Linked DNA regions of Homo sapiens. The protein of the gene in region 1 purifies or fractionates together with the protein of each later gene. This does not show direct contact. Each region holds a gene or a part of one and is shown on either strand. Other genes may lie near its edges.

Region 1 (3,747 bases):
GTGGACTTTACCGAGAAGGAGTGGCCCTTGCTGGATTCTTCTCAGAGAAAACTGTACAAAGATGTAATGCTGGAGAACTACAGCAACCTCACTTCACTGGGTAAGGCCAGTGCCATTTCTCCACTTATTCATCCATGAATTAGATGTTTTTGTTTGAGTATGTTCTGTGACCCAGGAACTATGCAGCGGTTCAGAACGCAGCTGTGAACAAGCAGCCCCAGCACCCATGCTTAATGGGGCCTCTCCTGGGTATCGAGGCCCATCTATTGCAGGGACCATGGTGGTTCTCCGGTGTGTGTCTGAGCTTGGCATGGGCTTCTGAAATACGAAATCCCCATTCTTTTGGAGGGTCAGTGTGTGGGTACTTGTGATCTTATTTCCTATTTCTTTTTTTTTTTTTTTTTTTTTATTTTTGGTGATGAAGGGTTCTCACTATGTTGCCCAGACTGATCTTGAACTCCTGGCTACAGGCACGAGCCACCATGCTTTGCCTGTGGTTTTGTTTTCTATCAGTCAAAAACTTTTACTGTGTTCCTTAGAAATTTTGGCACCACCATTTTGCTGCTCCTAAGTCAGACTTGTCCACCCTCAGAACACTGAAGACCCAAGTGTTGAGCCCAGGCTACTGGAAGGGGTTGTCCTCTGCATGGCCCTCCCTCAACCTGTGTCTTTCCCGTGAGTGTAGGGTATCAGGTCGGCAAACCCAGCCTCATCTCACACTTGGAGCAGGAGGAGGAGCCGAGGACAGAGGAGAGGGGCGCTCACCAGGGCGCTTGTGCAGGTGAGCGAGCCCCAGGCAAAGAGCGGTGCTGTGACTCTACCTCTATTCAGTGACTGGGGTGGAGGGAGGTAGGTTAGGGAGTGTCACCCAGGGAAATTGAGAGATGCTCCTTCCCTCTTTTTGCCCATCCATTCTCTGACAAATCTTTTGGTCCACACACTCCTTCATCTTTGACTTTCACATTCCCATTATTGGGCTCTTTGTCCCATTCTTTCATATTTGATGTTTCTGATCATCCGCTTTCTGTCATTATCAACATCATCTGAATTGCCTTAAATTTCTTTTTTCTTTTTTTTTTTTTTTTTTTTTTTTTTTTGACGGAGTCTCACTCTGTTGCCAGGCTGGAGTGCAGTGGCATGATCTCGGCTCACTGCAACCTCTGCCTCCCAAGTAGCTGGGACTACAGGCATGATGCCGCCATGCCTACCTAATTTTAGTATTATTAGTAGACATGGGTTTCACCATGTTGTCCAGGCTGGTCTCGAACACCTGACCTCAGGTGATCCACCCACCTCGGCCTCCCAGAGTGCTGGGATTACAGGCGTGAGCCACTGCACCAGGCCTGAATTGACTTAAATTTCTACCCCTGGCATTGCCAAATATCTCACATGACCAGATTTTTTAACAATTGCTTTTGCACCACTTTTCCTTACATAGCCTTAGGATCTGCCAAGAAATCCACCTGTCATTGTCACCATCATCCCACCATTTTCCTTTTCCAACAATTAATACTTTTCCAATTTGTTTCAGATTGGGAGACTCCATCTAAAACCAAGTGGTCACTTCTTATGGAAGATATTTTTGGGAAGGAAACGCCCAGTGGTGTGACGATGGTAAGATTTCCGTGGGATAATTCTGGATCTTCCTTCCACGTCTGAGGAGACTGGGGCAGCCTAGGTTAGAAAAGCAGTTCAACACCAGGGCAAGCAGCTTCCCTCAGAGGAGACTGTGTTTCAGAGACACTGGGTATTACCAAGATGGAGACAACCCTAAAGCTAACCTCAAGCTACTTTACCTAGAGTGTCTCTGAGTGAAGATTTTTATAGCTGTGTCTCAGATATTGAGTGTTGGGGCTCAATGCAGTTTTTGTTTTATTTTATATTTATGCTGTACACTTACTTATCAATTTAGTTTTGGTGGTGTTTATTTTTTGGGGGGCAGACAGTCTTGCTCTTGTTGCCCAGTGCAGTGGGCAACATCTTGGCTCACTGCAACCTCTGCCTCCCAGGCTCAAGCCATCCTCCCACCTCAGCCTCCTGAGCAGCTGGGACTATAGGCGTGTGCCACCACACTTGGCTGATTTTTCTATTTTTTGCAGAGACAGGATTTCACCATGTTGCCCAGGCTGGTCTTGAACTCCTGGAGATCCATCAGCCTCGGTCTCCCAAAGTGCTGGGATTATAGGCTTGAGCCACCATGCCCAGCCTCAATTCAGTGGTTTTTGTTTGTTTGTTTTTGTTGTTGTTTTTGTTTTTTGTTTTTTTTTTTGAGGCACAGTCTTGCTCTTGTCACCCAGGCTGGAGTGCAATGGCACGATCTCAGCTCACTGCAGCCTCCACCTTTCAGGCTCAAGTGATTCTCCTGTCCCACCCTCCCGAGTAGCTGGGATTACAGGTGTGCACCACCATGCCCAGCTAATTTTTGTATTTTTAGTAGAGACAGCGTTTCACCATGTTAGCCAGGCTGGTCTCGAACTCCTGACCTCAGGTGGTCCACCCGCCTTGGCCTTCCAGAGTGCTGGGATGACAGGCGTGAGCCACCTTGCCCAGCCTCAATTCAGTTTTAAGCAGTGAAGAAATGCTATATGCAAAAAGCTTTGAAAAAGTAACACATGTGGAGCCTTGTGGCCTGGCATTCACCTATTGTCCTTGATGGAGCTCAAATGGGGCAGGGACAGCACGTTTGCACGGCAGATGGTTACAGCTCTAGTCATAGTAATGTGCTTCTATCTGTTCATAGCAGTGTATGTGGGGATGACGCTTAGGGTTGCAATGAATATGAGAATTGCCTTTGTCAGCACTTACGTCTTAACCAACAGGAAAGAGCCGGTCTTGGAGAGAAGTCCACTGAATACGCTCACTTGTTCGAAGTCTTTGGCATGGACCCTCATCTCACTCAGCCAATGGGAAGGCACGCTGGCAAGAGGCCCTATCACCGCCGCGACTATGGGGTAGCGTTCAAGGGCAGGCCGCACCTCACTCAGCACATGAGCATGTACGACGGGAGAAAAATGCATGAATGTCATCAGTGCCAAAAAGCCTTCACCACGAGCGCGTCCCTCACACGGCACAGGAGAATCCACACCGGGGAGAAGCCTTACGAGTGCAGCGACTGCGGGAAAGCCTTCAACGACCCTTCAGCCCTTAGGAGCCACGCAAGAACTCACCTCAAAGAGAAGCCCTTTGACTGCAGTCAGTGTGGAAATGCATTCCGGACCCTCTCGGCCCTGAAAATCCACATGCGAGTTCACACTGGCGAGAGGCCTTACAAGTGTGATCAGTGCGGGAAGGCTTACGGCCGGAGCTGCCACCTCATCGCACACAAGAGAACGCACACCGGAGAGAGGCCCTACGAGTGTCACGACTGTGGGAAAGCTTTCCAGCACCCCTCCCACCTCAAAGAGCACGTGAGGAATCACACGGGGGAGAAGCCCTACGCGTGCACGCAGTGCGGCAAAGCCTTCCGCTGGAAGTCCAACTTTAATTTGCACAAGAAGAACCACATGGTGGAGAAGACCTACGAATGTAAAGAATGCGGGAAATCCTTTGGCGATCTCGTGTCCCGGAGGAAACACATGAGGATTCACATCGTCAAGAAACCCGTGGAATGTCGGCAGTGCGGGAAGACCTTCCGAAACCAGTCCATCCTTAAGACTCACATGAACTCTCACACTGGAGAGAAACCATACGGGTGCGATCTCTGCGGGAAAGCTTTCAGCGCGAGTTCAAACCTCACCGCACACAGGA
Region 2 (3,747 bases), on another chromosome or scaffold:
AAAATATTTAACCATAGGTTTTCAGCTAAACACCCAAATTCTTAAGCACGTTCAAAATAAAGTTTTGCTGTTTGAATTGTTGATTTACCAGGCATTGTCAGAAACACGTCTGTGGATCACACATTCAAGCTTGTGCACAGGGCTGGGTTAAGATCCTCGACACGCCCCTGTAAACATCCTCTGGGCTCCACTCTGTACCACAATGGCATTCAGATCCAAATTAAAGCATGCAAGGGAAGCACTTGGAAAATCCTAAAACACTAGCTACCTGCTAGATATTATAAATATTAAATATCAATTCTAGAGTATGCAGCCTAGCATTTGCTTCAAAATTATGGAGGGAGGGAATAAATGAAGTGAGACAGGTCAGAAGTTGGTAATTATTGAACTTAGATGATGTATATAATCGCTAATTATACCATTTGCTCTCCGTTTGCATATGTTTGAAATTCCCTACCATAAAAAGTTTAAAAATAATGAAATCTAAGTGGAGTCTTGGAAATTTGAATTATAACCCTCTTCATTTCGCAGGTAAAACAAACACATCCAGAGAGGTTAAGTGACCTTCCTGAAGTCACACAGCTAGCTGCAGAGCCAGGAGTCAAAATTCTGAACTGGCAGCTCCGGGCCCTTTGTGTGGCCTCATACCAGGGTCCTCAGGCAGAAATAGGTTCCTGTGGCCACCCTCCCTAATATTCCCAAGTTCTTTCAGTTCCCAGGGGTGTCTGGGAGCCCGCTAGGAGGAGGGAGGGTGCTGACAAAACTGAAGCTGGAAGGCTAGAGCTCCGGGGGAGCCAGGAGGCCCTGGGCACGGGCCAAACGTAACAGGGCGGGGCGGAGGGGGTTCTCGCCTGCTTTCTGGATCACTGACACCTGGAGCAAGCCTGCCCAGGGAACCCGACCTTGGCCATGACATAGGCTTATTCTGCCCTCACTCTGCCCCCAATCTTTCCAGCCCATCTCCCTACTGCTGAAAGATCAGGGGTCCAGGAGGGATTCCTGGGATTCTGGGCTTTGGGAAAGTGGACTGGGGGCAAATGTTAACCACCAGGGGCACTGGGGGCGGAGAGGGGGACCCTAGAAAGAGGAACTGAGTGTTTGCAGCCGCCCCTCAGTAAGATCCAGGGGCGGGGGCAGGGAAGGGAGCAGCCGCGATCCCCCTAAGCCAGGGTAGGAAACAGGTCGAAGGTCCCCTGGCCTTTGGAAGCAGAGACTTCTTACTCCCAAAGTCCTTCGACTCTGACCGCTGGAAAGACTTGGGAGCTGCTGAGTGCGCCCGGAGGACCCCGCCGCGCTGGGGCTGTGCGTGCAGCAAACCCAAGCCGCTGGCCAGGCTTGCGAGAAAGACCTCCACGCGTGGGGGGACCGTGGCGCCCTAGGTCCTCTGTCACATTCCGGGCCCTGTCACATTAGGCTGGGTTCGGAGACGTGACTGCATCTGGCCCCCCAGTCGCCCCGGCCCAGACCACCCATCCAGAATCCCCGGACTCGCCCTTCTCTCCACTCTGTCCACAGGCTGCCCATCTGGGGACCCCAGAATCTCGCCCCCTTCTCCGTCGGGCTCCCCAGGGCCTCCCTCCCCCTCGTCTGCACGCAAAGCTCCCTTAGGTCCCTTTAAGGAACAACTGGCCCCTGGTCTCTATTTCCCCCATACGATAAAGGGCACCGGGTGTTCCCGCCCGAGGGTGCGGACTCCTCGACCCTGAACTGCCACCCCCAGAAGGCCTTGAGCCCTGCGGCTCCAGGAAGACGGGTCCGTGCGCCTCCGCGTAGACTCGGCTCTCGGTCCTACGCCTGCCGCGCGCCCGCAGCCCGCCTGGCCCCGGGAAGCCTCACCATCGCTGCCGCTGTCCTCGCCCGCGCACCTCTCAGCTGGGCCTGCCCGCCCCGACTGCTCCAGATACAGCCGCCTCCGCCGTTGTGACACACCGGGAGGGGGGGACGCCGGGGACAGGCGCGCCGGGCCCGCAGCTGCCCCCCGGCATCACAGTGCCGGGGAGGGGCGGGCAGGTCACAAAGGCCCCTCCCCGCCCACCCGCGGCTCAAATCTCCGGGTCCTCGGTCCCGCCTCAGCAGCCGGGGGCGCTCGCAGCGGGGACTGCGCCCGCGGGGGAGGCTGCCCTATTACCAAAGCGCACGTGTCCACGTTCCAACACCGCCGGCGAGAGCAGCCTTCGTGACCCCAGCTGCCGGAGAAAGAAATGTAAAATGCAGCCAGGCGAATCGCGCGGGTCTCCCCAAACTTCCGTTCTCCTCCGACCCGCTGGAAAGGCTCCTGACTGGGGTGCAGCTGACCGGAGCGGGCTGCAGCGGGCCCGGGTGCCAAGGTGCCGTCTCAGCTGGGCGCCCTAGGGCCGTGTGTGCTTGGCAAGCTGCAGGGCCTCTGCTCCCAAAGCCTGTGCCTCCTGCCGCCAAGGCCCGCCTGGTTGCTGGAGACGGAAATGAGATGGCATACACAGAGCTCCTGGTACAGGCAGGTGCTGAAGACTGTTCCCGTTTTTACCCTCTCCCCGGATACCTCGCACCTCCACCGGGATTTTCAAATCTCCCCCCTTGATCCCTTCCTACTTTTAAGCCCCAAACGTGTCCAAGTCACATCTCCTATGTAATCCAGAACTCATACCAGGGTTCCCCTGCCTCTGCCCAGTAGTAAGACCCGCCAGATGCTGTTGGTTGCCCCCTGCTCGGGAAGGGGTGGGCACTTGGTAAAAGCCCCTCTTCACACTTTAGATGTTGGCCACGTTGTCACCCTGCCCATCTCCCCTCACTTCCCCCCAGGTGGGTGAGGGGCTGGATGGTCTTTGTTCCTTGTTCTCACTGCTGTTTCTTGTTCTTTCCCTCCAGTGGTCAGTTCCATTCATGTTGAAAGGTGTACCCCAGCCTCTCTCTTCCACTTTCCTCAGCACCAAGCCAACGCAGGCAAATTCATAGGTTTTCCTTAAGACAATACCACTTTAGCCAGACGTGGTAACTCCCCAAGTTTCCAAGCACAGTTAGAGATCTTCCTACCCTTCTGCTCCTAAGACATGCCTGCTTGTGGCCAATAGAGAATGAGAGCAGATTTCTGCTTACCTATGCGGCAATCTGTTCTGTTGGCCACCCATTCATAAACGATAGTACATGTGTCGTAATCATCTTTGCATTTGAGAGAGTACCAAACACAGTGCTTTACCCACTGATACAAACGGTACTTAGTAAAGCATGCGTTGAATTTTTGTCTATCTTATAATGTAAGATCCTGACAATTAAGACTCAGGATTAAGCTAATTGTGCCAAGCACATGATAAATGGTCAATAAAGGATTTTGGTTATTAGTATAACTCTATGTGTATTTCTCTTCCAAACTCTCCCATAGCATATTCTATTACTTCTTCCATAGCATTTCTTTTATTTTTTATTTTTTTTGATGGAGTCTTGCTCTGTCGCCCAGGCTGGAGTGCGGTGGTGTGATCTAGGCTCACTGCAACCTCCGCCTCCCGGGTTCAAGTGATTCTCCTGCCTCAGCCTCCCGAGTAGCTGGGACTACAGGCGCGTGCCACCACGCTCGGCTAATTTTTTGTATTTTTAGTAGAGACGGGGTTTCACCGTGTTACCCAGGATGGTCTCAATCTCCTGACCTTGTGATCCACCCATCTTGGCCTCCCAAAGTGCTGGGATTACAGGCGTGAGCCATCGCGCCCAGCCCCATAGTATTTATCACTTTCTTTTTCTTTTTTTTTTTTTTTTGAGACAAAGTCTCGCTCTGTT

Evidence for each region.
Region 2: the proteins of ZNF317 (region 1) and TUBA8 purify together in Homo sapiens (affinity purification with mass spectrometry; 2 studies listed by BioGRID and IntAct, with this or other methods). This does not show direct contact.

What each region holds. Positions count from the first base shown.
Region 1 is NC_000019.10:9,157,295-9,161,041, forward strand, and holds part of ZNF317 (zinc finger protein 317), read left to right. Parts: coding exon 1-100; intron 101-539; exon of another isoform or gene 540-685; coding exon 686-781; intron 782-1,531; coding exon 1,532-1,614; intron 1,615-2,819; coding exon 2,820-3,747. UniProt on the Homo sapiens protein: May function as a transcription factor. May play an important role in erythroid maturation and lymphoid proliferation.
Region 2 is NC_000022.11:18,108,958-18,112,704, reverse strand, and holds the start of TUBA8 (tubulin alpha-8 chain), read right to left. Parts: upstream 1,897-3,747; 5' UTR 1,840-1,896; coding exon 1,837-1,839; intron 1-1,836.